Regions from separate parts of the Homo sapiens genome. Here region 1 is linked to region 2. Evidence: fine-mapped expression QTL. A gene starts in region 2. The other region holds a variant in brackets. All regions are shown on one strand. Distances are between the middles of the regions.

What was found. PIP is the estimated chance that this variant, and not a neighbour inherited with it, causes the effect.
Region 1: its variant is fine-mapped to the expression of WLS in whole blood (GTEx, PIP above 0.99).

Annotation. Positions count from the first base shown.
Region 1 is chr1:68,264,978-68,281,856 of GRCh38, forward strand. No RefSeq gene overlaps it. Among named protein-coding and RNA genes, the nearest start is that of WLS, 41 kb to the left of the region's middle. RefSeq lists enhancers at 11,364-11,991, 13,073-13,657. The variant C/A (reference allele first, on the strand shown) is at 6,723.
Region 2 is chr1:68,228,810-68,244,429 of GRCh38, forward strand. It overlaps WLS (Wnt ligand secretion mediator), which reads right to left and starts at 3,714. Exons shown (of 12, transcript NM_024911.7): 1 at 3,385-3,714. The coding sequence starts at 3,490. It also overlaps the pseudogene RPS7P4.

The DNA.
Region 1 (16,879 bases), 37 kb after region 2:
GAGATTACAGGGGTGGGCCTCCACACGTGGCTATTCATTGCAATCTTAAAGAAACTTACTCACAAATACATTAATGTCTGCTACTTCTACCTAATAATTGAGGAAAAAAGATGAAAAGAAAATACGATAGGTACAACCTAGACTTGGAGTTATACATCCTGGGCTACCCAGGACAGTCATAGGTTACACAACTGGATTTATATGCTGGATTTATACCCAGCATAATTGTTAATAATGCCCCTTTCAGGCTCAGAAGTGTTTCAGACGGTCACTCTAATGAGATTAGATGCAAAAGAGATCTTGTGTAAGGCAGAGGATACTTACATGTTGAATTGATGTGGGTATGACAGAAAAAGTTATGAAATTTTCTTTGCTGGAAGCTTCTAAAATTTATTATGCAACTGAATATTCTAAGAAAATGTGTCATATCCAAGGGGCTGAACAATAAATTTTGTTTCTGATGCTGTTAGAAGCAGGTAAGTTTTGAAATGTGTTCTGGGTAAACTGTTGGCCATAGGGATATATAAATTCATGTTATATATTAACACATCCAGAAGCTCCTAATTCATGCTTGGATTATTTTAGTATTTGACCTAATGTCTTTAATGAAATCTTAGCTATGTTCTTGATTTTTGTTTATATTTGTTTTTTCTAACCATAAGCACATGTCAGAGTCCACTCAGTGTCACTAAAATAGTCTCAGAGTCATTTGCTGCTACCTCTCCTATCATCAGCAACTCTTACGAACAAGTCACAGAGGATGTGCAAGCAAAGCATGCCAGAGATTGAAAATTAAAAATGGAATGCTATCAATGATCCTTGACTTCTGATCCAATAGCTTTTTGCCAAAGCTGTTTTCATAGGTTTCAGTGCAATATCTGGCCCATACATCTACTTCTTGGTGTTACATTTCATTTCTATTGCTTAATTATATAAGCTCCTGGCTCCTTATTTTTCATGGTGCGAACTGCTGACTGTTTCCCAATATATCAGTTTTCTCCTTGTGTATGGTAATGTCAATTCCCTTCTAGATGGTAATATGGCTGCCCAGCTAGAGACTAAAGACATTCGTCAGTCCCTTTGAAGCCAAGTGTGGCCATCTTACTAAGTCCTTGACTATTGAATATGAAAAGAAGATGTGTATATTATTTCTACATAGTTTACTTAGTGACAACTTCTTGCCCTAGACTTGTTTTCTAACCCCTTACTGAAAACTGGAGAACAGATATGCCAGTCACCCAGCCTTGACCATTAAGATGATGACAATGCCCTGACACCTTGCTACTTAGAGTGTGCGCCTTGGACTAACAGCATTAACATCACCCGGAAGCTTTTTAGAAATACAGAATCTCAGGCCCCATTCCAGGCCTGCTAATGAGAATCTGCATTTTAGCATGATCCACCAGTGATTTAAATTCATGTTAACATTTGAGAAATACTGCCTTAATAGGGTATAATGGAACAACAAAATGGAAGGAATCTAGGTCTATTAATTATTTTGTTGAGCAGAGCTATCTACTAGCCTGGTCTGCCCACCTATAGACTGTTATGGGAAAGCACAGTGAAATTCTATCTTACTAAATCATTGAATTTTGGGGTCTCTTTTTGATCTCTATTCTAATTTATATAGTTTTTATTCCTTGTAATAAGAAACCTACTTTTTAAAGCTCTGCTAGAGTCTTGTGGAGAAAGAGATGAGAAAGAATGTTATTTCCTTTTGGACTATTCTGGAGTAGTCCCTCCACCCTTTAGAGAAGTACCTAAATTTAACTCAGGCTATGTTGATTTATCTAGGACTGGGTGAGTGGGGAGTGCTCTTACCCCATCCTCCTGAGCATTACTCTCCATATTCCAACCATCATTTTTGGTCTCCTTGAGGATGCTGACTTAAGAAACTCAGTATAAATATTAAATGAACTGAATACAAAATGTCTCCGGAGATGGTTTCATCATTTTTTTTTTCCAGAAGACCCAAATTTGAGCTGGCAGCATTAATCAAATAGACCACATTTATTATAAAGTACATTAGAGCATGCACGCTCTCCTTTTAATGTATAGACTCTCACCCACTATTTAACAACCATTTTCTCCTTACTTCTTCCTTTCCATTCCTAGTTTGGTAAATGTGTCCTCTGGACTTGCAATTCCCATACTTCAAACCAACAAACATTTACTAAATGCCTCTTAAGGCATTGTGCTAGGCATTAGGTTAGACGCTAGATATACAGTAGTGATTAAGAAAAAACAGATCTGAGGCCAGTCATGGTGGTTCACTCCTGTAATCCCAGCACTTTGGGAGGCTGAGGCAGGCGGATCACCTGAGGTCAGGAGTTCGAGACCAGCCTGGCCAACATAGTGAAACCCATCTCTACTAAAAATACAAAAATTAGCTGGGTGTGGTGACGCATGCCTGTAATCCCAGCTACTTGGGGGGCTGAAGCACAGGAATTGCTTGAACCCGGGAGGTGGAGGTTGCAGTGAACCGAGACTGCACCACTGCACTCCAGCCTGGGCATGATCTTGGCTCACTGCAACACTGCAACCAAAAAAAAAAAAAAAAAACGAGAAAAAACAGATCTGGCCTCTGGCCTCACGCATAGCTTACAGTCTAACTGGGCAGAAGATCAATGAACAAGTAATTACACAGCTGAAGAATTTTAAGAAATGAAAAGTACTTAAAAATTTTGTAGTAACATTTATTGACTGAATAAATGGAGAAAAATAAATTGAGAATTAAGCAGCTTTCCTCCAAGCCTCCAGGGCAACAAGGAACACTCCCTTATTTTCCCTTTCCTGCCTTCCTTCCTCATTGCTTTGGGTTCACATTGGTTCTTGTGCCTGTGAAAGAGGAGTTAGATAATTAATCAGCTAAAAATAAGGATTCACAGTTAATGCACTTGGAAAGGGATCGAAAAGGAACTTGGCAAGATAAAAATACAGTCTTGCACTGCATAATGTCATTTTGGTCAATGACAGACTGCCTATAGGATGGTGGTTCCATAAAATTAAAATGGAGCTAAAAAATTCCTATTCGCCTAGTGACATTGTAGGCATCATAACATTGGAGCAAAACACATTACTCACACGTGTGTGGTGATGCTGGTTGCAAACAAACCTATTGTGCTGCCAGTTGTAGAGCACATATGATTATGTGCAGCACATACAATGATGTGCGGTATATAATACTTTGATAATAATAATAAACTTACTGGTTTACGTATTTACTGTACTATATTTTTATCATTATATTAGAGTGTACTCCTTCTATTTATAAAAATAAAAAGTTAACTGAAAGATGGTCTTAGGCAGGCCTTTAGGAGGTACTCCAAAAGAAGGCACTATTATCACAGATGAGAGCTCCAGGTGTATTATTGACCCTGAAGACCTTTTAGTGGGACAGGATGCAGTGGTGGAAGATAGTGATATTGATGATCCTGCCCCTATGTAGGCCTAGGTAATGTGTGTTTTTGTGCTTAGTTTTTAACTAAAATGTAAAAAAGTTAAAAAAAAATGATAAAAGTAGAAAAAAAGCTTACAGAATAAAGATAAAAAAATAAAATATTTGTGAACAGCTGCAAAATGTATGTTTTAAGATATGTTATTACAGAAGAGTCACAATGTTAAAAAAATTGAATTTATAAAGTAGATAAGTTACAGTGAGCCAAGGTTAATTTATTATTAATGAAAGAAAAATATTTTAAAACAAATTTAGTGTAGTCTAAGTGTAGCGTTTGTAAAGTATACAATAGTGTACAGAAATGTCCTAGACTTTCACATTTATTCACTACTCACTCACCAACTTACCCACGGCAACTTCCAGTCCTGCAAGTTTCATTCATAATAAATGCCTTATATAGGTGTGTTATATGATATTTTATTTTTACTGTATTTTCCTATTTTACAGTTTTCCTATGTTTAGATACACAAACATTTACCATTGTGTTACAATTGCCTGCAGTATTCAATATACTAACATGCTGTACAGGTTCATAACCTAGGAGCAATAGACTATACCTTATACCTGAGGTGTTAGCAGGCTATACCATCTAGTTCTGTGTAAGTTCCCTCTATGATGTTTGAATAACAGCAAAATTGCCCAAGGATGCATTTCTCAGACGGTATCCCCATCATTAAGCAATACATGACTGTAGTTACATTTTGGTGAAAAGCTTGTGGCTTACTTTCTTTTCCTTGATATTAACGTATTTGTTGTACAATATATTAAAATTGGGAATACAAAAGGTGTGTTTGTGTGTGTGTTAATCTTTTTAATCACTTTCTATGGGAAGCGAGATTGCATTTCATGTGCACGTGCCAATCTCTCACTGTTGCTCACTGGGAATGACTAATATCATTTTTCTTCCTTCTGGCCTAATGCAAACAAGCCACTGTGACATCCAATTTCTGATTTTTGGTCAATAGAAGGCTCAGATTTCTATTTTTGTATTGCCAAACAATTTGCAGCTTTAAATATTATTTTTGTTTAGTATTCACACATGATAATTTTTTTGGAGGTATCAGTCAAAGGCCAAAGCCTTTTCCACACAATACCACTGACCTTCCTTCAAAATCCATGGATGCAAAAGGACAGATAGTGGAGTGATAATTGGTGAAATAAAGAGGGAGTTGCTCCAGACAGGAGACGAAAGTTGCTGCTATTGAGACCAAGAAATGAAACCAAACTGTTTATCTATTACTGTATAAAAAGCTAACCCAAAAGGTAGTGGTTTAAAACAGCCATATTTTTGCCCATAATTCTCCAATTTGGGCAGAGCATGGTGGTGGCAGCTTATCCCTGCTGTGTGGTGCTGGACAGGGTGACTCACCTGGGCTGGAGAGTCTATGGTGACTTCACTCACACGTCTGGGGCTCCAATGGGGGTGGCTGGAATGTGAGGTATGGCTGGGCTTGTTTCTCTTTATACAGCCTCTCTGTGCATCATGGTCAATGAACTCTTTATCAAACAGCATCCTATTAAATCATTTGATTCTCACATTAATCTCTAAGGTTGTATCTTAAGAACTGAAAAAGAAACGGAGCCCTTTTACTTAGTCTTGTTTTCCCACTCAACCTGTATTTTTCTTGGAACTTATATGTATTTACATATTTCTGTATGCAATTTATTTACTTTAGTTTATTGTAGGTATTCTTATAAACTGTCCTAATTCTGCAGTACAGATACAAAGATAAATATGTGGTTTGTTACATAAATATGTTACTATTTATCTATCTTAAATCAGGCTCAGGGAGGTTTAGTGACTTGATCAAGGTTACATGCCTAACGCATGACAGAGCCTAACTTGGTACTCAGCTTTTCTGAACCTGTGAGAGCTAAATAATAAAATCCTAATCATATTATCTATTTTAGATTTTCTTAAACTCCTAGGTTATAGAAGGATCACATAATTATTAAACAGAGAAAAAAATTGAATATAGCAAATAATTTTTTTTTTTTTGAGACAGAGTCTTGCTCTGTCACCCAGGCTGGAGTGCAGTGGCACTATCTCGGCTCACTGCAACCTCCACCTCCCAGGTTCAAGCATTTCTCCTGCCTCAGCCTCCTGAGTAGCTGGGATTACAGGCACCTGTCACCACACTCGGCTAATTTTTTGTACTTTTAGTAGAGATGGAGTTTCACTATGTTAGCCAGGCTGGTCTTGAACTCCTGACCTCATGATCTGCCTGACTCAGCCTCCCAAAGTGTTGGGTTTACAGGCGTGAGCCACCACACCCGGCAGCAAATAGTTACATACCTTTTTAATTAGGTATAGTCACCATGTTGTACAATAGAGCTGTTGAACTTATTTTAACTAATTTGAACTTACCTAACTGAAATTTTGCGTCTTTTGATCAACATTTTCCTAAGCCCCCTACACTCTCTAGCCCCTGGTAACCACCATTCTACTCTCTACTTCTCTGAGTCCAACTTCTTTAGATTCCACATGTGAGATCATGTGGTATGTATCTTTCTGTGCCTGGCTTATTTCACTTAACATAATGTCTTTCAGGCTCATTCATGTTGTCACAAATGACACAATTTCCTTCCTTTTAAAGACCAAATAGTATTCCATTGTGTACATATACCACATTTTCTTTATTCATTCATTCATTGCTGGACACTTGGGTTGATTCCATATCTTGGCTGTTGTGAATAGTGCTTCAATGAATGTGGAAGTGCAGCTGTCTCTTCTATTGCACATACTGATTTCATTTCCTTCAGATATATACCCAGTAGTGAGATTGCTGAATCATATCATGGGTTCTATTTTCAATTTTTTGAGGAACCTCCATATTTTTTTTTCATAATGGATGTTCTAATTTACATTTCCACAAACAGTGTATAAGGGTTGCCTTTTTTCCACATCCTTGCCAACATGTTATCTTTCATCTTTGCAATAATAGCCATTCTGATAGCTGCGAGGTGATATCTCTCACTATGGTCTTAATTTGCATTTCTCTGTTGATTAGTGATCCTGAACATCTTTTTCATATACCTGTTGGCCACTTATGTGTCTTATTTTGAGAAATACCTATTCAAACCATCTACCCATTTTTGTATTAGATTGTTTTCTTACTATTGAGTTGTTTGAGTTTCTTATATATTTTGAATATTAACCTCTCATCAGATGTATAACAGATAATTTTACAAAGTAATATCTTATTTAAACTTCAGTTTACTTGAATTCCATTCAGTAAATACTTATTCAGCGATTACTCCATGC[C/A]AGGTGCTGATCTGTGTGCTTAGAACACATCTCTGAACAAAACAGATATTCCTGCCCTTGCAGAACTTACTTCCTAAAAGTGACATTTAGTAAACAAAACAACCAAATCATTTTACTGTGGGAAGAAGAATTTGCTAATGTTGTTGTGCAGAGATTGAGCAGGAACTTATAGTGATGATTTCATGGTATTATGAAATGATTTCATGGTTTTTTTGTTTGTTTGTTTGTTTGTTTGTTTTTTGAGACGGAGTCTCGCTCTGTCTCCCAGGCTGGAGTGCAGTGGTGCGATCTCGGCTCACTGCAAGATCGGACTCCCGGGTTCACGCCATTCTCCTGCCTCAGCCTCCCGAGTAGCTGGGACTACAGGCGCCCGCCACCACGCCCGGCTAGTTTTTTGTATTTTTTTAGTAGAGATGGGGTTTCACCATATTGGCCAGGCTGGTCTCGAACTCCTGACCTTGTGATCCGCTCGCCTCAGCCTCCCAAAGAGCTGGGATTAGAGGCGTGAGCCACTGCGCCCTGCCGGTATTAGTTTTTAAAAATATTTTTGTTAAAGAAAAATTCAACTCTGCCAATCTCTACTTAATTGAGAAATCTGTGTGAGCTTTACCCTTGGCTATGTCTCTTTAAACCCTTGAACTTCTCTGTCAATGATTTTTATGCAGATTCACAATTAAAATTCTAAAGTGTTCTTCATGTCCCCACCACTACTCCTCTCCTCTTAGGCTGACCCTGAAAAGACAGACTTCCAATGCTTCATGCATGGCCCTTAATTTTATTCTTACTCTTCACAGTTGAACACAAATATCAGCTTAAGTCCAATAATAATCTATTTGAGATGTAGATCTGCCATTTAGGGGATATCTTTTATTATGTCACAATCACTTTTTTGTTATGGCTTTTCACATATTAGAAGGGCAAATGCGATTAGCTATTCAAATAATAGAACAAGCAAAAATTGCTGCATAAAGATAATGATGCCATCCGAATTGAACCTAGGAATCCTGGCCGAAGGCACCACTAGTTGAGAGTTCAAATTCATGCTCATTGGGTGATGTGTGGAAGCTGATATTAATTTAGTACTTTGAGTGTCAATGTGCAATGTATAAGATTTCACACATTAAAAAAATACAAATTTGAAGCAGGGCACAGTGGCTCACGCCTGTAATCCTAGCACTTTGGGAGGCCGAGGCAGGCGAATCACGAGGTCAGGAGTTCTAGACCAGCCTGACCAACATGGTGAAACCCCGTCTCTACTAAAATTACAAAACTTAGTTGGATGTGGTGGTGGGTGCCTGCAATCCCAGCTACTCAGGAGGCTGAGGCAGGAGAATCATTTGAACTCAGGAGGCAGAGGTTGCAGTGAATCGATATTGTGCCACTGCACTCCAGCCTGGGCAATAGAGCGAGACTCCATCTCAAAAAAAAAAAAAAAAAAAAAAGATAAAAATTTCGAAATTTGAGAACCATCTTTATGAGAACAGCTCCTGATCCTGAAGTTCTTACAATTCAGCTCTGAAGGCCAGATAGATATTTTAAAATGTCAGGAAACAATAAGGCCACAAGGGGAAAAAACAAAGAAATGATACAAAATGATACAAGGACCAAACCGATGAATGGAGTAGGAAACAGGATATTTTGATGCAGATGATATAGTAGGTGCTTGATAACATTACCTCATTTAATCTTCATGACGATACAGTTTTACTAATTAGAATTTTGAATAACATGCAAGGGCCATTAAGGAAATTTCTTATGGACATATAGTTAGAAAGAAAAAAAACCAGTTTGCCTACCTTTAAAGCTCAAATGATGAACATTTAAATTGATTAACAATTCAAATTGCACTGAATTCAATTGAATTGAACATTTTCCAGGTCTTTCCAGTTTTTTCATAAGGCTTTGAAGATACCATGAAGGAATGTACCTGGAATTAGAACCACCAGATTTTGAACCCTGACTGTGCTACTTCCTACTGGTAACACTTTGCATCAGTCAGTTTCACATCTTCAAAATAGAAAGGACGATACCTACCACATATGCAGCCTATGGGTACATACTAGACATCTCTGTGAATGGGGTCAACAAAGTGCTTGGTTCACGGAATGCCCTGAGTAAAAACATGCAAGGTGAACAAGGCCCGATCGTTATTCCTTCTCTGTTTGAGGCTGGAAACAATGGAAAATCAACAGTCATCCCAGTCTGGTTCTTACAGGTTCAAGAAGAAGAGGAATAGTTATCCTAGTCTGGTTCACAGGCTCAAGAGATGCTTGAAACAGCTTTCTAAATGAGGTTTGGGAGTTCTTGTGGATTGCAATTACCCATCTTACTGCTGGACCTCATTAGCACATGTAATTGGAAACTGGCTCTGTATAATAAGGACAACAGGAGTCTCCAGCTCTGAGGCAATTACTGTGGTGTTACTCACTCTCCATCCCCTCATGAACACCCCAGCAGTTGCTCCTGAGACACAACCTCGGAAGCCAGGGAGAAAGAACCGAAATTCTCCCATTACTGTATTTCCTGTGGGAGTCTATGTGGGAGATTTTTGTTTCACACCATGTATTTGTGACATATGGATAAACAATGGCAACATAAAAGATCTTACAGAAATCTTCAATATTGGTTTCCTCAGAACACACATTCTTAATGGGGGACAATGTTGCCGCCACGGAGGTGAAAGTTGGTTATTAGGAAGGTTAAAAAAAATCTTAAATATAAAAATGTTTTGTGGCCCCTCATCATACGTAAACAGATATAAGGCATATATGTGGTATTAAAATTTCGTGGGGAGGGAATGATCAGAAAAGATCTAAAAAGTCTACTTAATAGGCAGAGAGTAGGGATAAAAGCGGGGAAAAAGGTTGAGATAACATGGCCTTAGAAAGAGTGTGAAGTTCTCCAGATCAGTTTTTGGCTCCAGAAAAGAGGCAGAAGATAGCTATTCTTGCTGCTCCATTCTCTGTTACAGATGGTTCTGGTTCATTATGACAATGATTAAAGGGGAGAGTTCTGAAGACAGGCTGCTTGTTTTGAAGCCCAGTTCAGTCAGATAGATCTGTATCATCTTGAGCTGGTTAATTAATGTCTCAATGCCTCATTTTTTTTCATCTGCAAAATGACTAGTGTAATATTGAACACTTCATGTTGTTGTGAGGGATGTAGGACTAAGTGTACATTTTCAAAAAGATAGGAGCAGAAGACATTCTGCCTTTGTGAAAGAGCTCTGGTTCCCTTTAATCCACATTCTCTAGGTGATCAAATCCTTGCAACATAGTTAAAAAAAAAAAACAAAAAACTTTGGGCAGGGTGCGGGGGCTCATGATTGTAATCTCAGCACTTTGGGAGGCCCAGGTGGTAGGATCACTTGAGGTCAGGAGTTTGAGCCTGGCCAACATGGTGAAACCCCGATTCTACTAAAGAAATACAAAGATTAGCTGGGCATGGTGGTGCACATCTGTATTTCCAGCTACTCAGGAGGCTGAGGCAGAAGAATCACTTGAACCTGGGAGGTGGAGGCTACAGTGAGCCAAGATCGCACCAATGCACTCCAGCCTGGGCGACAGAGTGAGATTCCATCTTAAACAACAACAACAACAATGACAAAAAAAAAAAAAATTGACAATTTTCAGAAATAGAAATATAGAGTAGCTAGAAATAGAATATATGGTTGGGGCGGCAGCTCACTCCTGTAATTCCAGCATCTGGGGACGCTAAGGTGATCCCAGCCTCAAGGAATCCCTTGAGTCCAGGGGTTCGAGGTTATAGTGAGATATAATCACACCACTGCACTCTAGTTGGTGACAGAGCAAGACCCTGTCTCTTATGAACAACAACAAAAAATACAGAATATAGAAAAGAACAGACGTAGTATATATTTCCATAACATGAAGGGTTCATTCATGTTAGTATTTTGTCATATGTATGCTCTATCTTTATTGTATAAAATTTAAAATTATGCAAGTTATATATATATATATTTACACACACACACACACACACACACACACTCCCTTTGTTCCTTCTATACTCCCAGTCCTACCATAATGAAGCACAGTTTTTGAAAGTGCCGACTGACTGCCTGGTATGATTTACTGAGTGATGTTCTTTCTGAACGGGTAGACTGAGGGACCAGCCATCTCCAGATTCATAACTCTCTACCCAAACAAGGTAAATGTTTCATTCAGATGAAGGCCAAACTGACATTTTCTCCATTAATTGGAACAACATTTCTTATGCACCTATTATATGCCAGACATTTTTGAACTGGGAGCAAAACTGTAGCTCCAGGCCTAGACATTAGTTTTTCAAAATGAAAATCCAGGTAGCTGGAGTGAGTTAAGTCAGTCTTCATACTTGAGGTGACGTTCCAGATATGTCTCACAAATGCTAATGGATAACTCACTTCTATTAAAAACAAATCCTAAAAGCGAGGTGTGATGACATGCACCTGTAGTTCCAGCTACTCAGGAGGCTGATGTGGGAGGATCACTTGAGCCCAGGAGTTCCATGTCAGCTTGGATGACATAACAAAAGCCTGTTTCTAATAAAATAAAATAAACCCCAAATCTCATGGTGGCATTGGAATTATTTGCAGACAACTCAGTCCTTTTGGCTTTCAAAGTAGGTCTCAGCAAAGGAAGACGCAAGCTACTGGTTTAGGATTAAACCTGGGGAATCAGACTGGTCTGGACACTTGGTTTGCCAAGAGGCCTGGTAGTGGAGAATTCTGTGACTGGCAAATGCCTAGGAGGCAAAGGAGTGAAAGTCTTGAGTTCTGAGAGAGACAACCTTTGGGTTCCTTAGGCACTAGGCAGTGGCCCAAGGCACTGGGATCTTATGTAAATGGCAGAGCGCCCCAGGAGCTTCAGGTATGCTTATCTGCTCATCTAATGGAGCCAAGGAGACAATCTGTTTAGATAACAGGTTGCAAGAGATAATGGACTCTGCTGGGAATGGCATGTTCCCTCCTGGGGGGTAACCCTTAGATCTTGGAATTTGGCTGAGAGAAGGAGGCAATGCATGGTGCTCCTGCAGAGGTCTGAAAAACAGCTGTGGAGTGCCTCACATGGTTTTCATCATGGCCTGAAAGTGTTCTCTCTCTCCATTGCCCGCCCCACCCCCCAACCCATTTACTCTAAAAGTAAAAATAAATATGTTAAATATTTTGGAACCACCCACTAAATAGTAATTATAGATGGTAGTAACTAATTACACTATTATCTATCACTTTTTAAGTGCTTCTGGATGGCCAGACCCAGTGTCAGGCTGCTCTCATGACCCTGAGAATCCAGAGGAGGGGTCTCCATGTGACACATAAGACTTGCACAGGTAGAGAACTTCATTCTTTCATTCACTTGCCCACTATTCGGGAAATGTTTATTGAGCCTTTTCTATATTCTAAGAAACTGTGCTGGTGCCTCAAAGAGTTCATAATTTCCCACAACAAACAAGGGGAAGTGATATAACTAAAAGTTACTTTGATTTTATTTTATTGAAATTGGTGGAGAAGGATGGCCTCTATACCAGAGAGGAAATGCTGCGGCACTGGGTTTTTAGCACAAGTCAAAAGAAAAAAATCTCCTTAAACAAACTCTGGGGTGGAAGGAGGTGGGATGGGGAATATATGGAGCTAAATGTATTTTTGGAACCTGCAAAGAAGAAAAAAAACAAAACCAAAAAGCCCAACTTAGTACTTCTTTTTCCAGGGTTCTTTCCTTGGTCTGTTTCCTAGCATCTTGTGCTAGCCTCTATCTTAGAACAGTATTTGTAAAATACTTACTTGTCTGTTTCCAACAAACTGCAAACAGATTATAGTCAGACTCCTTGCAGGTAGAGGATATTTTATTTAACTTTTTTTCTCTAGTACCTGAAGCATTTTAAAAAGCTCTTTTAATTTGAATGAAATGAAAAGATGACTGACTGAATGAATAAATGGATGGATGAATAGATGGTTGGAAATCTCTTTTAATTTAAATAAAATGAACGGATGACTGACTGAATGAATACATGAGTGGAAGCATGGATAGATGGATGGATGAATGGATGGATGGATGGATGGATGGATGTATGGATGGATGGATAGATGGATGGATTTCTCTTAGGTGATTCTCCTGTACACATAAGCAGAGACATACAGATTCACACGGAGAACAAAATCACACAGATTTATATATATTCCCAGAGAAACACACATATAAAGACATTGTTCTCATTACCAAAGCCCTCCTTTCTCTTGGCCTAGCCATCTTATGTGGCCACTTCACCCATCCCCATTCATCTTCTAAGCTCAATTCTATCAGCTAAGCCCCCTCCACCACCACCACCACCACCATTCTAACCTCCCTCTCTCAGCTGACACAGGTAACAGTGAGCTGACAAGTTGATCTAACAGTATGCCTAGAACACCAGGGGAGCTTCCAGAAGTCCTGGCTTTTTGGCTCTCTACGGCTCTGGAAGGGATTTGTCCCACCTATGTTGTTCTTATTTGGGGCAATTTTAACCTGGGCAGGAGAAAGGGAGGCAGGCTCCTGGAAGTGATATTCAGATAGGATGAAGATGTGAAGACCACTGAGTTTCCTCAAAGTACAGACCCCTGTTAGGTGTGAAGGAAGCAGAGAGGAACTAACTTTATGGAGTGTCTTTGATGTCCCAAACATTCTGCTAGATGTTTAAGTGAGATGGCTCATCTAATCACCATGAAAATGAAAGTTTCCACAGAGGTGCTATTATTCTCATTTTGCAAATGAGGAAGCTGAGGCTGAGAATGAAAAGGGACTTGGCCAAAGCTAATAGCTAAGAAGTGACTGCCACCGGCTTAGGAACTATTCAGATTCCTGATGCTGAGGCCAACAGACATATTTCATTTCTTCCTTCCAGGCCATATTCTTTCACTGAATATTTACCAAGTGTCTATTAGATATACAAAGTACTGGAAGCCCAAACGTGGGATAGAACCAGTCTTTGTCTTTAAAACATGTATATTAGGCTAGGCACGGTGGCTCACGCCTGTAATCTTAGCACTTTGAGAGGCCAAAGAGGGAAGATCATTTGAGGTCAGGAGTTCAAGACCAGCCTGGCCAACGTGGTGAAACCCTGTCTCTACTAAAAATACAAAAATTAGCCAGGCATGGTGGTGGGTGCCGGTAATCCCAGCTACTCAGAGGCTGAGGCAGGAGAATTGCTTGAGCTCAGGAGGCAGAGGTTGCAGTGAGCCAAGATTTTACCACTGCACTCCAGCCTGAGCGACAGAATGAGACTCTGTCTCAAAAAAAAAAAAAAAGAAAGAAAAAAGTAGGCCGGGAGCGGTGGCTCACATCTGTAATCCCAGCACTTTGGGAGGCCGAGGTGGGTGGATCACAAGGTCAGGAGATCGAGACCATCCTGGCCAACATGGTGAAACTCCATCTCTACTAAAAATACAAAAAATTAGTTGGGCATGGTGGCGTGTGCTTGTAATCCCAGCTACTCGGGAGACTGAGGCGGGAGAATCGCTTGAACCAGGGAGTCGGAGGTTGCAGCTAGCCAAGATCATGCCACGGCATTCCAGCCTGGCAACAGAACAAGACTTTGTTTAAATATATATATATATATATATATATATATATATATATATGAATATGACAGAGGAAACAAATGGTACATTATTGTAAGATATATGAGAGAAATGCTCTAAAAGAGATATCAGCAAATTTCTTAGAAGGTTGGAAGAAGGACAGAACACTTCCTATTGAAGGAAAAATGCAGCATTGAGCTGGGTCTTGAAGGGTGAGTCTTATTTTCCCAGAAGGAGATGATGCTGTTGGAGAGAAAAAAGCTTTTTCTCTACCCTCTTATGGTTAGTGCTTGAGGGTCTGCATATTAAACTGACAAAAGACAGATTAGCAAGGCAAAAGACAGATTTTTGTTCACATATATCAAATGTATGTTGGCATTCATAACCACTCAAGGAGGCAGTTGTTAATAGAATTTGGAGCGTGTATACTATCTTAACAGGAGAAGAAGGGTACTTACAGGAAAACAAATGTTTTTTAGGAAAGATAAATGGGCCCTTAGGAGTGTTGGGGCTCAGAATCTGATACCCCAAAGTATGGCACCTTGGCATGCTGAGTACTTTGAACTGAAGGACATTGGAAGGACCTCAGAAACAGGGTTTCTCTGACCTCTTCCTACCCTCCTATCTCCTGTCTCTTTTTCTTCGCCTAAGTAAATGAGTCATAGAAACCAGAACTCCTCTTCCCCAAGGTGGGTCATAGAAACCAGAACTCCTCTTCCTCCAAGCATGCCATAAAACCTAGGAAGTCCACTCTTCTCCTTCTGTCTTGAAGAATCTCATTCCAGAGGAGTCCAGCCTCATACCCAGGAGGAAGGAATGTTACATAGGGAGGCCGAGAAGAATCTGAACAGAAAGGCAGGCCTGGCTGGGTTTCTCCTGTCAGTCTGTTAGCATTAGATCATACCTTTTTGTCTAATCACATTTCTATATGGCTGTCAGTTCTTCATCAAACCTAAGCATAAAAACAGACAATTTTCCCTGGGTCTTTGGCTCTTTATTTCTCAAGGCTCCCATGTCACATAAAACTTTGGTTAAATACATTTGTCATGCTTTTCTCTTGTTCTCTTGCCTTTTGTTATAGGAGTGTTGGCCATGATCCTTATGATGGGTAAGAAAAGTTATTACACCTTTCCTCTTCTACAGGAGGGTAGATGGGAGACACCATAGTTTTGTGACAATGTCTGTTTGTTTGGGTAGGAAGCTGATAAGAGAGTCAGTCTTCCCTCGTTGCTACCAAAGAGGGGATTTACAATGACAGTTTTGTTATCTTGACTTCTAATAGGAGGCTGTGCTCTTAGGCAGATAATGAAGGAAAAAAAGCACATTCTCAAATGTTTTTAACTCAAAACAACTTTTATGCTACAATAAAATATTTTAGACCCCCTTAATACAGAGAAAGGCAAAAATGTCTGAATACTTATTACTAATAAGTAATACTTAATACTTTGTGAACATTATGCCAGGAATATCTCTTACCTTATATGAAGCAGGATGTTTTGACAGGGCTCTTTTGACTCCCTGGCATTTAGAAATCCAAAAAAGCAACCATTACGTTTATAGCTCCTTCTTTGTCCAGTCATTATCATCGTCATCATTATCATCATTGTAGGGAAAGAAAGAGGGTGATCTCTTTCCTCCACATCATAAGCTGTCACCCTTATAATGAAAGGTTAACAAGAGAAAAGCATAATAAAATTATTTAATCCTGGCCAGGCGCGGTGGCCCAGCACTTTGGGAGGCCGAGGCGGGTGGATCACCTGAGGTCAGAAGTTCAAGACCAGCCTGGCTAACACGGTGAAACCCCATCTCTACTAAAAATACAAAAAATTAGCCGGGCATGGTGGCACAGTGCATGTAGTTCCAGCTACTCAAGAGGCTGAGGCAGGAGAATCACTTGAACCTGGGAGGCAGAGGTTGCAGTGAACCGAGATCACGCCACTGTACTCCAGCCTGGTGACAGAGTGAGACTTTGTCTCAATAATAATAATAATAATAATAAATAAAATAAAATAATTTAATTCTAATTTTACATGACACAGGAGACTTCAGAATGAAGACCAAAAGAGAAAAGGAAAGCTGTTCATTTTTAATGCTTAGGTTATAAGAAGTGGGAACAGCTGGCTGGGCACGGTGGCTCACGCCTGTAATCCCAGCACTTTGGGAGGCTGAGGCAGGCAGATCACAAGGTAAGGAGATCGAGACCACAGAGAAACCCTGTCTCGACTAAAAATACAAAAAAAAAAAAAAAAATTAGCCAGGTGTGGTGGCGGGTACCTGTAGACACAGCTACTTGGGAGGCTGAGGCAGGAGAATGGCATGAACCTGGGAGGTGGAGCTTGCAGTAAGCTGAGATCGTGCCATTGCACTCCAGCCTGGGCGACAGAACGAGACCCTCCATCTCGGAAAAAAAAAAAAAAAAAAGAAGGGGGAACAGCTGTGTAGAAATGTGATTGGACAAAACATGTATGAACTAATGGCAATAGACTGAGTGGGGAAACCCAGCAAGGGCTATCGATTCAGGTTCTTCTTAGCCTTTCTGTGCAGCATTCATTCCTTCTGCATACAGGGCAGAATTCTTTCCGGCTGGGAGTCTTATGACCTA
Region 2 (15,620 bases):
CCATTAAAGGTTTAGCTTACAGACACTGGTGCCAAAAAAAAAAAAAAAAAAAAAAAAAAAAGCAAGCAAAAAAATGTGTTTTTTTTTGTTTTTTTTTTTTTTTGGTAAGAAGGATGTTGAAATAGGAGAATATTTAAGCTGGCTAAACCAAAGCCAATTCCTGGAGGCTAGTTGCTTTTATAGTGAATGTTTAAATTTTCTCCATCAAATCTAGAAGGCTACAACGAAACAACAGCCTAAATGTCATGTACAATTCTCTAAGTACTGAAAGAGTTACACAATTTTAGAACCGAAAGGGACCTTAAACTCCTTCCTCTACCAATGAGGAGCCTGAAGCCTGCTAGTTAACTCACTTGCCTGGTCACTCTGGGGTTCACGGATTGTTATTGTTTGGTGGGGTGGTTGTTTTTGTGCTGTATATTTGTGTGTGTGGTGTATGCAGTACTCACACCCTTACAAACAAGAGCTTTGCCATTTATATTCTCCCCTTCCTAAGTTGCTCTTCCTAAGTTTACTTTCATCAGCAAAAAGAGTGATCAAAAAGAAAAATATATTCTGGCCAGTTCAAAGGGGACATTTCTTTTTCTCACTTGGCCTACTGCAGATATATTAGAGAGACACTTCACACCCAGGACAACTGACTTTTTAAGTGGCAATAACAATGAGCAGCGGAGGAGTTCTCTTCTCACTCGAGAGAGCAGAGGAGGTTTCTGAACTTTACCTTGACTTCCAGCCTACAAACTGTTCCTTCAACTACTGTCTCCGCTTGCCCACTTTGTTGCTATTCTTTCCTTAGTTTCCTTTGTTTTCCAGCTTAGGGAAGTTTGGTGGGAAAATTTTTCACTTACATTTTGTTGATATTTATTTCCCATATTTGGGTCCTACCCAAATTTTAGATTTAAGAGCAAAAAAAAATTACTGTTTAAGTGAAAGAGGAAAGGCTAAGTCACTGTTCAACATGGGCTAGATCTGATCTGAATTGGAGACACAGCCTTTGCAATTGAGGAAGGAGAGGTAAGCAGTAAACTTATACAGTTTCCTCCAAGAAGTGTTATACATAGATATTTTTCAAGGAAATTGGAATAAAGCAGTTTATTAATTGAGGGGAAGCTAGTTACAGTTAGCACCTGCCGCGGACTTTTTGAGGTTGTCGTCATTAACCAAATTCTTCGGGAAAAACAATCTTTGGCACCACTTACTCCAGACAAACCCTGTTTGGAACAGACAAGTGTTCTGACCCTATAGTCGCTCCAATGTCCACCAGCCACTCACGAGTGCCCTTAGGGCTTCTCCTTGGTGGTAGCATCCCAGAAATCCTACTAGTTTCAGAAGTGCCCTAGGAAGCCTACTTCTTGGATAATGGGCTCTGTCTGCAAAGCTAGGAGATCAGCCTAGAAAAAGAAACACACCAACAAACACCAGGAAACTATGTGTAATGGTTTGCTGCTTGTGCAAAAACCTCAAAGAGGATGAAGGTCAGACAGGGATAATAGGCCAATTTAATTCTGAAAGCACAAGGTGCAAGAAATTTTAATTATGGTCTGCCACTGAAATCACACAAGATCCAATGGCATCTAACTGCAACTGCTCATCAAGGGAGACAAGAGGTGTAATTGTAACCGCTGCATAATCACTGTGAGGGCACAGGGAAGGCTGCCTTCAGCTCCCAGCAGAGAAGGTATTAAGAGCCTCGAAAAATCCAATACGGGGAAACGAGATTGCATGTAGCCAAACAGAAGCTCCTAACACAAAAGCCAACCCGTGTGTGTGTGTGCGCGCGTGTGTGTGTGTGTGTGTGTGTGTGTTGAGGGTGAGGGTTCCAGAAAGAAAATGTGAAGCTGTTTGGCCCACACTGGGGATAAGAGATTGTTTGAAAACTCTGAACCCTTTTCTGTTTTGTGGATAAATGCACACAGAGAAAAGAGCACTGTCTCCTTTAGGTATTTCTCTCCTTGATGAAGCTTCACCCACTCTCCTTTGTTTAAGACAATTGGCTTGGATGTTACCGTGATTTACAGTACCAAACTCCCTTTAATTTGTTCCCATCAAACCCAAGTCTGGAGACAAAACGCCAAGCACACGACTGGAGGTGCCCAAGCCTGTGCAGCTCTGGCAGCGACGCCGCCGGCGCCCCCGGGCGTTTTCCCCGCACCCCACATCGCGTGGGCGCCCGTAAAGGCACGCGCGGAGAAAGCCCCTCCGTGGACTCCCCACTCCGCAAAGTTTAACAAAGCCGTGAAGTAAGGAAACCGAACCTCCCGTCCGCGCCCGCTGCAAAGTTGGCATTGAAGTTTGTGCCGGGATGTCCCAAATCTTGAGGGGGCGGGGGGCGCGAGTGTGCAGAGAGGCGGGAGGATGGATGCAGATGGGGAGACAGTGAGGGGAAGGGAGTTTTTCCGAGTGGACGGTCCGTGAGGCGGTTTTCTTCACCCGGAAGCCTGTTTGACTCAGAGAGGTCCGGGAGGTGCACGCCAGGGGAGGTCTCCCGGGGCGGGCGCTGTCGCCGAGGAGGCCGGCGAGCTGTCACCTGCGGGGGGCTGTGGTGGGAGCTGAGGGCGCTCTCCTAAGCGCCAAAAGAGGACGGGGACATTCACAGTCACCGGCTCTCGGGGCTCTAAGTAGTGGGGGAAGGGATATTCACGAGTGGGCAGGAGGCCAAAAGCAACACCTTTCGGATACGCTTTTCCCCTCCGACCTCTCCAACTTCCCGCGGCGCTGGTCAAGGACTCCCTCCCACCCCACCCCATCCCACCCAACCTCCCGGCCGACAATTCGGACCTGTCCACGGCAGAGCGTGGGGTGGAGTGCGGCGGGAAAGCAGAGGGCGCGAAGGTCGGGACCCCAAATTGCAAACCCTCAGCCCCTAGCAAAGACGACCAAATGCATTTACAACCGTGCAAGTATCTCAGCCTTGTAACAGAGCTCCGGGTTTGCGCCGGGCACAGTTCCCCGACTCTTCTGTTGTTCCTAATAAAGTCGATTACGTTGCCCTCCCGGAGCTGATTGGAAGGGAACCGAGAGGAAAAGGGGGGGAACGCGGGAAAAAGCGGGGGGGGGGGGGGGCGAGCAATCAACTTTGTAACCCAGCGCTTCCTCGCGCGATCCGTCGCCATGCTTAAGATTCCCACCCCCGCCGCCCCCCTCTTGCCTTTCAAGTGGATACTGAAACTAGGCCAAAACTTTTTCCCCTCCTTTTCTCTTAGCCACTAGACTGGATTGTGCCCCACGGAGCCCCATGGAGCTCTGCTTTCTTAAGCACAATAGCCGGACTAATTAGATCATAGAAGCAAGGCAGTGATACTGTAACAAGTAGCCCAAGAGGCAAAGAGGGAAGGGGCCCGAAAAGACAGAAAGGGGGAAAAGTTTGCAGCTCTCCGCACTTACCAATCAAGCCTCCCACCAGAAAGGCGATGATTTGGAACACGAGCAGAATCCCACCAACAATGCACAGCTTCTTGGTGCTCATGTTTTCTATAATTGCCCCAGCCATTTTTGCGCCCCCCCTTTTTCTTTTCTCCTTGAAATAAATGTTTTAGGGTGAGCTTTTTGCTCCCTCCTCTCACACACTCCCTCCTTCCTCGCCTCCTTTCTGGGCGCTGCAAAACTTCAGAGGTGCTGGAGCGCGGCGAGGATGGGACCGGGACGGAAGGCGCCCGCACGGATTCCCCCGGCGCAGCCGGCTCGGGTTCCCCCAATGCCCGGAGCTGTGATTGTGGCCGCTCCGCCGCCTGTGGACGCTTAAAGGAGCAGGGAAGCGGATCACATGACGCCGCCTCCCTCCCTTTCTTCCTCCCTCCCTCTCGCGCTTCCTCCCTCCCTCCCTCCCTCTCTTCCTCTACCCCTTGCCCACCAGTTCGGGGCTCAGAGCTCTGGCGGGTGCTGGCGCCTGGCTCCCGAGTCTGGCCTGCAACCTGTCTCTCCAAGGTCTGATGCCATTTAGGGGTTGCTGTTGATGTTAAGCGGGTTCCCCCTGCCCAGCTTCTCACAGGTTTCCTTTTCTGGTTTCCGAAGTGCGAGATTTAAATCACCGGTGGACCGCCTTGCAGACCTTTAACTTACGCGTTGACTTTAGGAAATGGTCCCCACCCCACCCCCAACTGCTAGAACTCTCTTTAGGAAAGAGGAGGAGAATTTTTTTTAAAAGGACCCAATAGATGCCTAAGTCAAAACACAGAGATGCGGAATAAAGTCTCAGCTCGACTTCTTTCTACCAGATTCCCAGCCTCGGTTATTGGGCACATACCCAGCTAAATTCCCCACGGCGCCCCTTGAGGAAACTTGCTCTCCAGCCAAATCAGACCACTGTTCGTTACTCCAGCACATGTGCTTCCACAGCCTTAACCCTGGTTATTGCCTTAAAGAGAACATGTTCTACTCCATCAATGTTAAACCTGATCCAAAACCAACTAGTGTTAAAAAATCTTTCTAATTTTCCACACCACCTCCATGCAGTATCTCTGGGAACTGAGCCCCTACAATCCTGTATTTACATTTTTACCTCCTATTGTAAGGATTTGTGTACACGTTTGTCTCCACCACTGAGCTGTAAACTCCTGGGGAATAGGGACCAAGTTTTTTTTGTTCTTTGTACCCCCCATGGTGCCTAACAAAATGCTAGCTCTAGTAGGTGCCCCATAATCTTTTGTGGAATGAATAAGTGAATGTGAAAGCAAGCCCACAGTTTGTATTTCAAAGGTCTAAAGAGATCTTAGTTGGTTTAGAGGGTACCTATATTAAGTTACAATGTTTGTTGTCTCTTTGTGAGAAATCATATATTTATATTTATACTTAACTTCCATAAAAAGAGGGGCGGGGCTCCCGATAGAGATTTCCTGCTCTATCAAGCCTAAATTTCTGGGCCTGGTTTTTCCATGTTTCATAAACTGGCCGCTTGGCCAGTACAACTCACCTTACTCAATAGACCCTTGGTTTGGTAAATACCCCACCCTGCTCCCCAAACGTGCAGTTTCTACCACCACCACCCACACATCTTGTTTCTTGTCCCTCCCATCCTTACACACCCTCTTCATGCCAAGAGACTATTTTTCCCAGTCCTCTCTCCTCCTCTACTCTGTTCCTGAATTTTCATTGCCCTTATAAAAGATGTCATGCAGGTTACACTTAATAGAAGCATTCATTTCTAATCTCCAAATAGAACAGAGACTTGTCAAGGACAAGCACCAAACTTTATGCATACAAAACTCCATCTCTTCAACATCTAATAGTTCTTAACAGTTCTGAGGATATACACATCATTATGTGTCACATAAGGATGTTTCAGTCAACAACAGACCGTGTGTGTGACAGTAGTCCTATAAGGTTATAATACCATATTCTTACAACACCTTTTCTATAGATATGTTTAGATACACAGAGTGCTTACTATTGCATTACAGTTGTCTACAGTGTTCAGTACAGTAACATGCCAGACAGGTTTGTAGTCTAGGAGCAATCAGCTACACGGTGTAGCCTAGGTCTGTAGTAGGCTATGCTACCTAGGTTTATGTAAGTGCCCTCTATGACATTTGCACAATGACAAATCACCTAACAACACATTCTCAGAAGGTATTCCCATCATTAAGCAATGCATGACTGTGGTTGCTGTTTATCTATTCTCTCATTCAACTCTTTATCCAAGTCACTTATTGAGCCTTTAACATGTTCCAGGCTTTCTTTCTTAAGCACTCAAGGATACCAAGATGTCAAAGTACTTGCACCTGCCCCAGAGGAACCCCCCCCCAGTCCAAATGTTATTCACTGAATAGTAATTAATTACCTCTACTTTGGCAAACACCAGGTACTATCAGAAAGGATGAAGTAGACAGAATTGTTGTCCTTCCAATGTCCTTCAGTTCAAAGTACTCAGATACCTTGGGGTATCATGTTCTGAGCCCAGCACTCCTAAGGGCCCATTTATCTTTCCTAAAAGTCATTTGTTTTCTCATAAATACACTTCTTCTCCTATTAAGATAGAATATAAGCTCCAAATTCTATTAACAACTGCCTCCTTGAGTGGTTATGAATGCCCACATACATTTGATATATGTGAACAAAAATTTGTCTTTTGCCTTGCTAATCTGTCTTTTGTCAGTTTAGTCCACAGACCCCCAAGCACTATGCATAAGAGGGTAGAGAAAAAATGGTGGGTTTTTTGTTTATTTATTTGTTTGTTTGTTTTTGAGACAGAGTCTCATTCTGTCGCCCAGTCTGCAGTGCAGTGACACGATCTTGGCTCACTGCAACCTCTGCCTCCTGAGCTCAAGCAATTCTCCTGCCTCAGCCTCCTGTGTAGCTGGGATTACAGGTGCCCACCACCACATCTAGCTAATTTTTGTATTTTTAGTAGAAATGGGGTTTCGCCATGTTGGCTAGGCTGGTCTTGAACTCCTGACCTCAGGTGATCCACCCACCTCTGCTCCCAAAGTGCTGGGATTACAGGTGTGAGCTACCACGCCTGGCCCCCGTCCACTTCAAATATAAACTGGATCCATAAAAAATGTCTGGAGTGGTAGAAGTGATTTATTCAGATTAGTGAACTCCTTGACTTAGTTTTTAATGAGCTGCTACAATACACCCCACCCCCTCTGCTCTGAAATGCATCTCTGCAGAGTAACTAGCCTAACTCCTTAGGTTTCAGTTTTCTCATCTGTAAATGAGTTGCTGGTTCTCCACCAAGATGATCCCCTGCTTTAAAAGAGCACTTATTAAATAGTTATTTTAATTAAAAAGGGATATTTCTAATTGCTAATCAGTACTTCTGTCATGAGATTACCAATAATGCCCAACTTGGTGGGATGTAGACACCTGTAGTATTCATCACCATGGGCTGCTTTAAAAAAATTGAATTTCTATCACATCTTTTTAAACATTAAAAGTGACTGTGAATCTTTATTTCCCAAGCGGACAACACAGGTGAATAGAAAAGAACATGACAGTTAGAGTCAGCTGGATCTGGTTTGGAACCCAGATCCCATCTGCCCCTTGTTTCATGTGATTATAGGCCATTATGCAGTTACTTACCACCTCTGAGGCTTCACAGACCAACTCTGAGGCTTCTGTAAAACCTTCACTCTTTACAGAAGAGTTTTCCCTTCCGTAAAATGGGAATAATAGTACTATTTCATGGTATTCTTGTAAGATATGAATATTTATTATTATATTTAGGAAACTAAGGGAAATCAATAATTTTGTGTTTAAAAACTAGTAAAACTAGTAAAACTGATGACTGATTATTGCTCAGCTCTAAAATTTTTATCATATTGTGATTACTGTTTGAAGCATATGTTAGGAGAAGTCTAGGTGGTTAACTTTACTTGACAAGTGTGTTAATAAGGACAACATCTAGAATTGAACTTTGACAATACTCAGTGGTTTTTAACATAGAAACATCTGTTCTAAAAACTTCCAGCTGCCAAGGAAATGTTTGTTTTGAGTCATTGTCATTAGGTAGATTATCCCAGAGACTGAAATGATCCAAGGGCAAATCCAACTCTGTCAATAAAAACTGATCATTTCAACTCCATTCCACTAGACTTTATATTAGGTATTCTGATTTATTCATCATTTTATTCAAAGTGTTTGGGATATGCCGGGCATGGTGGCTCACGCCTGTAATCCCAGCACTTTGGGAGGCTGAGGTGGGCGGATTACCTGAGGTCAGGAGTTCGAGACCAGCCTGACCAACATGGAGAAACCCTGTCTCTACTAAAAATACAAATTAGCCGGGCGTGGTGAGGCATGCCTGTAATCGGGAGGCTGAGGCGGGAGAATCACTTGAACCTGGGAGGCGGAGGTTGCAGTGAGCTGAGATCACGCCATTGCACTCCAGCCTGGGCAACAATGGCAAAATTCCATCTCAAAAAAAAAAAAAGTGTTTGGGATATGGAAGGTCATAGTGATGTTCCATGCGTATGTATTGAATAGATGAATGAATGCATGAATTCATGAATGAATGAATGGATAAATGGATATCTAACTGAAGGTAGATATAACTCCTCCCTCACCCCCAGTTCCTATATATAATTGACTGACTATATTCCTACCTGGCACCTATACACTAGACTGCATTTTGCACATGTATCTATATATGTGATGTGTTGTTACCCTAACTGGCTTGCAAATTCCTTCAACACAAGGAGAGTGTGATCTGAGCCTTTGTGTGCCTCACAGTCCCAGCACAGCACCTTGCACAGAGGAGGGCTTAGATTCTGAAGTTGAGAAAGCCTCCTTTGGAAGCCAAGAGCAGCACATTATTATTGGCATTGCAGTAAATGTAATGTAGAGTTCTAAAAAGATTGAATACATCTCCTGAAACATCTAATTTACTTCCCAGAGGAAACTAACAAGAGGAATAATCCCACTCTGAGTCTTCTCATTCTCATAAATAGCTTTTATCCATAAATGGCATCCCTATGGCTCCATGGTTGTTGGTATTTTCTGGTAATTGGTACCTGTGAATGTGAGCGAGCACTGTGGGTTCACACTCTATTATTCAGTGTCACTTTTCACCACACACACACACACACATACACACACACATATAGACACACACACACACAACTTCTTTTAAAATGCTCTTTTTCCCCCAAACAAAACCACCCCTCCCTTCTTTTTCTGCGGACCCCATTGTCTTATTTTGTATGGAGATACAAGACCTTTCTTAATGCCTCCTTTTACACAATAACTGTGGGTAGGAACTATTCAGAAAACCAATACTTCAACCTGATCTTCAATTGCTTAATAAATACCCCATGTCCCACTCCCGTTTTGCATCTCCACCTCCTCTGTAGATCTTCATTTCACCTTTTCTTTTACATTCCACAGACATTTCAGTCATTAGGCTTATTCAGTCACAGCTTTATGTCTTGCTAGCTGTGTAAATAAATGTGGGGAAATTACTTTTCTCATTTCTTGCAAAGAATAAATAATACCAGTCTTATGGGTTGTGATCATTAAACAAAATAAAAAATGCCTAGCACAGTGCCTGACACAAAGTGAATACTCAACAAATATGGCATGTTATAGGGGAGGAGGATTCTGTTCCCAGAGAGCAAAACAAAACAAAACAAAACAAACCATAAAACCCCTAATTATAGTCTCTCTTATAAAATTGCCTCTTTGAACCCAGGCAACCTGGAAGGGCAGGTAAGAAACTTTACAGGTTTCCAGAGGCCTCTAGTGGGAGGCAATCAACAGTTTGAAGTAGCCAGCCAGCCCCCTGTTTCTCAGGCTTGAAAGAAGCTGCAGCAGAGAGCTGGGAAGCCTCCAGTGTTTAAGCCTTTGAGATCACCTGTGCTGGGTTCCTCCACCAGAGGTGGGGAAAAGGGCTTTTTCTTTTTGCCAGTTTTCATGGTATAAGCCAAATAGGGGCTGAGCTGACTGCTCCTTCATGTCATGATGGCTCTTCTTCCCCGTCTCCCCATGAACTTTCTCATGCTGACAAGTTCCTCGATATCTGCTTCTCTCCGCGCAGAGTGGCAATAGGTGGAAAACCCGGGAAGGCCCAGAAACACCTGCCCCGGACAGTGATTCCTGTGATATGCAGACAACACCCAGTACCGTGGCAGACTTGGCACACAAATTTTTGTAATGAATAATGATGAATGAGCCGGGCGCGGTGGCTCACGCCTGTAATCCTAGCACTTTGGGAGGCCGAGGCGGGCGGATCACGAGGTCAGGAGATCGAGACCATCTTGGCTAACACGGTGAAACCCTGTCTCTACTAAATATACAAAAAATTAGCCGTGCTTGGTGGCAGGCGCCTGTAGTCCCAGCTACTCGGGAGGCTGAGGCAGGAGAATGGTGTGAATCCGGGAGGCGGAGCTTGCAGTTAGCTGAGATCGTGCCACTGCACTCCAGCCTGGGAGACAGAGCAAGACTCCGTCTAAAAAAAAAAAAAAAAAAGATGAATGAATAAGTTCCAGTCCCTGGCTATGCAGGGGTTTGGGGAAACCTCCCATAGACGGCCAATGTCAGGAAGAGAAGCTGAGGCTTAACCTCAGCATTAACCTAGATGTGTTAAGAATAGACGCTGACTCAAGCCAAAGCCCAATCTTTATCCCCATTGCAGATTAGCTCAAAATCATCACTAAGTAGCTCAGCATGAAGGACAATGTACCATAAAAACAGCTTAGGATGCCTATATGTAACATGGAAAAGCAAAGGTTGCATGAGGATAATATATATGAAAATCAAGGACCTCTCCTACTTTGCATTAGTGAAAAGAAACTGGAATGGCTGGGAGTGAGGGAGGACATCATTCCTCAAACATCAAATACAGTGGCAGTTAATAGCTCCTATGAATAATGCCAATAATTATAGCAATAACAAGAATGAGAACTTATGTTGACTACTTTCTATGTACCAAGCACTCTTCTAAATGCTTTCCCTATGTTATCTCCATTAATCCATACAACAATCCTGTAAGATAGGTACTATTGTAATCATTTTAAAAAGAGGAAAGCTGTTTCAGAGAAGTTAAGGAATATTCCCTTGGCCACATTGCTAGCAAATTGGGAAGCTGAGATTTTTTTTTTTTTTTTTTTGAGATGGAGTCTCACTCTGTCGCCCAGGCTGGAGGGCAGTCGTGCGATGTTGGCTCACTGCAAGCTCCACCTCCCGGGTTCATGCCATTCTCCTGCCTCAGCCTCCCGAGTAGCTGGGACTACAGGTGCCCGCCACCACGCCTGGCTAATTTTTTGTATTTTTAGTAGAAACGGGGTTTCACCGTGTTAGCCAGGACGGTCTCGATCTCCTGACCTCGTGATCCACCCGCCTCGGCCTCCCAAAGTGCTAGGATTACAGGCGTGAGCCACCGCGCCCAGTGACAGGCATTGTTTTAATGTTTTCTGCCTGCTCCTCTGTTCATGTGTTCAACTCTGTTCTCTTCCTCAGTACCTAACTCCCACTCAGAGCAAACTCCCTCCCATTAAGCCTTAAATTTTTATAATCTGTCTTTGCTGGTATTTGCTGCTAAGGGCTTTTCCAATTTGAAGATCAATTTTCAAGTCAAATGACTCATGAGAGTAATTGTTAACCATAATGCTAGAGTGTTTTGAGGACATTCTTAATATACATTAGCAAAAGACATGTAATACATAAAATTGATTTTGTCTTAGGTAATCTGCAAATTGAGTCTTATAATATTTCTGTTTGTTTAATTTGTTGTTATGATATGAATCCCCAGTGAAGACCCTCTTCGCCCGAGTTTGAGTTGTTTTGTGAATACTATTCATCTTAAGACAACAATGTATGAGGGCAAACATTTTCCTATTTCTGTTATATGTTGCTGTAGTTTGGCTCATCTGACCCCTCCAAATCTCACATGGAAATCTGATCCCCAAGGTTGGAGGTGAGGCCTAATGGGAGGTGTTAGGATCATAGAGGTGGATTCTTCATGAGTAGATTAATGCCCTTCCTGGGAGTGGGTGGTGAGTGAGTTCTCACTCTGTTAGTTCCCAGGAGAGCTGGGTGTTACTTCCTCGCTCACCACATGATCTCTGTAGATGCCAGCTCTCCTTTGCCTTCCCCCGTAAGTGGAAACAGTCTGGGGCTGCCACTAGATGCCCAATCTTCCAGCCAGTAGAATTATGAGCCAAATAAACGTTTTTTCTTTATAAATTACCCAGTCTACCTACAGAATGGGAGGAAATTTTTGCAAACTATGTATCTCACAAAGGTCGACTATTCAGCATCTATAAGGAACTTAAACAAATTTACAAGAAAAAAAACCTCGTTAAAAAAAGTGGGCAAAGGACATGAACAGACAATTTTCAAAAGGAGACATATATGCGGCCAACAAACATATGAAAGGAAGCTCAACATCACTGATCATTAGAGAAATGAAAACTACAATGAGATACCATCTCACACCAGTCAGAATGGCTATTATTAAAAACCAAAAAGCCCGGGTGCAGTGGCTCATGCCTGTAATCCCAGCACTTTGGGAGGCCGAGGCGGGTGGATCATGAGGTCAGGAGTTCGAGACCAGCCTGGCCAAGATGGGGAAACCCCGTCTCTACTAAAAAATACAAAAATTAGCCAGGTGTGGTGGCAGGCACCTGTAATCCCAGCTACTCAGGAGGCTGAGGCAGGAGAATTGCTTGAACCCGGGAGGTGGGGTTGTGGTGAGCCAAGATCATGCCACTGCACTATAGCCTGGGTGACAGAGCAAGACTCCATCTCAAAGCCAACAACAACAACAAAAAAAACACAGATGCTGGCGAGGTTGCAGAGTAAAAGGAGTGTTTATACACTGTTGGTGGGAATGTAAATTAGTTCAACCATCGTGGAAGACAGTGTGGTGATTCCTCAAAGATCTAAAGACAGAATTTCCATTTGACTCAGTAATCCCATTACTGGGTATATGCCCAAAAGAATATAATCATTCTATCATAAAGACACATGCACATGTATGTTCATTGCAGCACTATTCACAATAGCAAAGACATGGAAACAACCCAAATGCCCATCAGTGGTGGACTAGATAAACTGTGGTGCATATATACCATGGAATACTATGCAGCCATAACAAAGAACAAGATCATATCCTTTGCAGGAACATGGATGGAGTTGGTGGCCATTATCATTTGCAAACTAATGCAGGAACAGAAAGCCAAATAAATACTGCATGTTCTTACTTACAAGTGGGAGCTAAATGATGAGAACACATGGACACATAGAGAGGAACAACACATACTGGGGCCTATCAGAGGTGGAGGGTGGGTGGAGGGAGAGGATCAGGAAAAGTAACTAACGGGTACTGGGCTTAATACCTGGGTGATGAAATAATCTGTACAACAAAGCCCCATGACATGAGTTTACCTGTGTAACAAACCTGCACAGGTACCCCCTGAACTTAAAATAAAAGTTAAATTAAAAAGAGTAACACTAAATATAAATAAACAAAAATAAATTACCCAGTCTCATTTACTCCTTTACAGCCAAATGAATGGCCTTGAACATATGTCCTATCTGATACCTGAAGCATGAATGATTTGATGAAGCTTTCTTTCATTTATTCCATAAATATTTATTATGTGTTGACCATATGCCAGGTATCTGGCAAGTGCTGGGACACAAATGCAAAAATGACAGATATCTTTTACTCTCACAAAGTTTATAATCTCATGTAGATGAAAGGGTATTGGTGATACAATGACTCTATTAGCTGAGAGGGCAAGTCTTAAAGAATGACTGCTGTGCCGGGCATGTTGGCTCACATCTGTAATCCCAGCACTTTGGGAGGCTGAGGCAGGTGGATCACTTGAGATTGGGAGTTTGAGACCAGCCTGACCAACATGGAGAAACCCCATCTTTACGAAAAATACAAAATTAGCCGGGCATGGTGGCGCATGCCTGTAATTCCAGCTACTCAGGAGGCTGAGGCAGGAGAACGACTTGAACCCGGGAGGCAGAGGTTGCGGTGAGCCAAGATGGCGCCATTGCACTCCAGCCCAAGAAACAAGAGCAAAACTCCATCTCATAAAAAAAAAAAAAAAAAAAAAAAGAATGACTGCTGTAAGAGGTGTAGAAGAGACCTCAGACTGGAGAAAGCAAAAGGACAAGGATTGCTCTCCTTAGCGTTTTAGTGTGTGTGTGTGTGTGTGTGTGTGTGTGTGTTTTTACTATGAATATATATATTTTTATTTAGTCATTTTTGTTTACTATTGAAACTCTGGGAATTCACAATTAACATCCTTGCCCATGAGCTTCTTATAGACACCAGAAAAAGTTTCAACCTTGTGTTCCACATTGTTCTGTTGTGCTTTGTCCAAATGAACCTTTATGAGCCGGCTGCCATCTAGTTTGACGCGGATTTTCTTGCCCACAATTTCACTTGGGAAGACCAAGTCCTCAAGGATGGCATCGTGCACAGCTGTCACAGTGCTGCTCCTGGGACGCTTTTGCTTATTTTTTGTACAGCTTTTTCGAGTTGGCTTAGGCAGAATTCTCCTCTGAGCGATAAAGACGACATGCTTCCCACTGAACTTTTTCTCCAATTCACTTACTAGCCGGATTTGGATTTTCTGGAAAGATTTCAGTTGAGTAACGGGAACAAGTATTATGATAGCTTTCCGACCACCACCAACTTCAATTTCCTTGGCTGCCGTAATATTCAGCTCTCTGAGCTGAGCCTTGAGTTCTGAGTTCATCTCCAGCTCCAGAAGAGCCTGGGAGATGCCGGACTCGAACTCCTCCGGCTTCTCGCCGTTGGGTTTCACGATCTTGGCGCTCGAACTGAACATGGCCTTCTCCTGGGAGAACTCGCCGAGCGCCGGCTTATGAAGAGCTGCTCTCCTTAGCTTGATGCACAAGGTCCTCCATGCTTGGCTCCATTTGACCCTCACAGAGACAGCATGGTTCAGAGCATGGGCTCCAGAGCCAGATCACCTGGCTTTGCCACTTACTAGCTGTGTGCATGGGCCAGTTAGGTTAAATGTTTTGTACCTCAGTTTTCTCATCTGTAAATGAGATTGTAATGAATATTAAGAGGGTTTATTTGTATAAAGTGTTTAAAACAGTGCCTGACACATAGTAAGTTTAATATAAGTAAGTAGTCACTAAAAAAGGAGAGAAAAAAGTGAGTTTTTTCCTCTTCTGCCAATCCCGCAAGGGTACCTTGGTTTCTGTCCACTTTTGAAATTATTTTATTATTATTTGTATTTTACTTTAAGTTCTGGGGTGCATGTGCAGAACAGCGTTCTGTCCACTTTAAACATTTTAATAACCCACCCCAAGCACCACATGTTGTTTGACATATATCCATTAGTTATTATTAATGTCCATTATAAATTTATTGGACATCTCCTATATGCCAGGTGCTGTTACTCAATTATGAGAGGCAGTATGAGAAGCAAGGATTTAGGATCAAACAGATGTTGGTGGAATTCTGCCTTAACCATCATCTAGCTCTGAGACTTCAGGAAAGTAACTTAACCTCTCAGAGCCTCAGCTAAGTCACCTGTGAAATGGAGATGATGTTATCTTCACAAAATCTGTGATGAGGATCAAATATATTCAATATATAAAGAGTTGGCCGGGCGTGGTGGCTCACACCTGTAATCCCAGCACTTTGGGAGGCCAAGGCGGGTGGATCACCTGAGGTCAGGAATTTGAGATCAGCCTGGCCAACATGGTGAAACCCCATCTCTACTAAAAATAAAAATTTGCCAGGTGTGGTGGTGCACACCTGTAGTCCCAGCTACTCAGGAGGCTGAGGCAGGAGAATTGCTTGAACCCGGAAGGTGGAGGTTGCAGTGAGCGGGGATCATGACAATGCATTCCAGACTGGGCGACAGAGCGAGACTTTGTCTCGATAATAGATAGATGATATAGATAGATGATAGATAGATAGATAGATAGATAGATAGATAGATAGATAGATAGAAAAAATAAAAAGCTTAGCAAAATGCCAGGCATTTGATAAGCACTCAATAACAAGGAGAAACTAGAGGAGGTGGAGGAGGAAAAGGATAATCTTGGAGGTGGATACTGTTATTTAGTTAGAAAAGTGAGGTTCAATGCCCTCAACCCCTGCCCTCTCATCCTGCCTTGGTCAGAGACTCTTTCTCCTCTGCGCCACATTCCCGTCAACTCCAGTTTCCTCTAATCGCTATCAA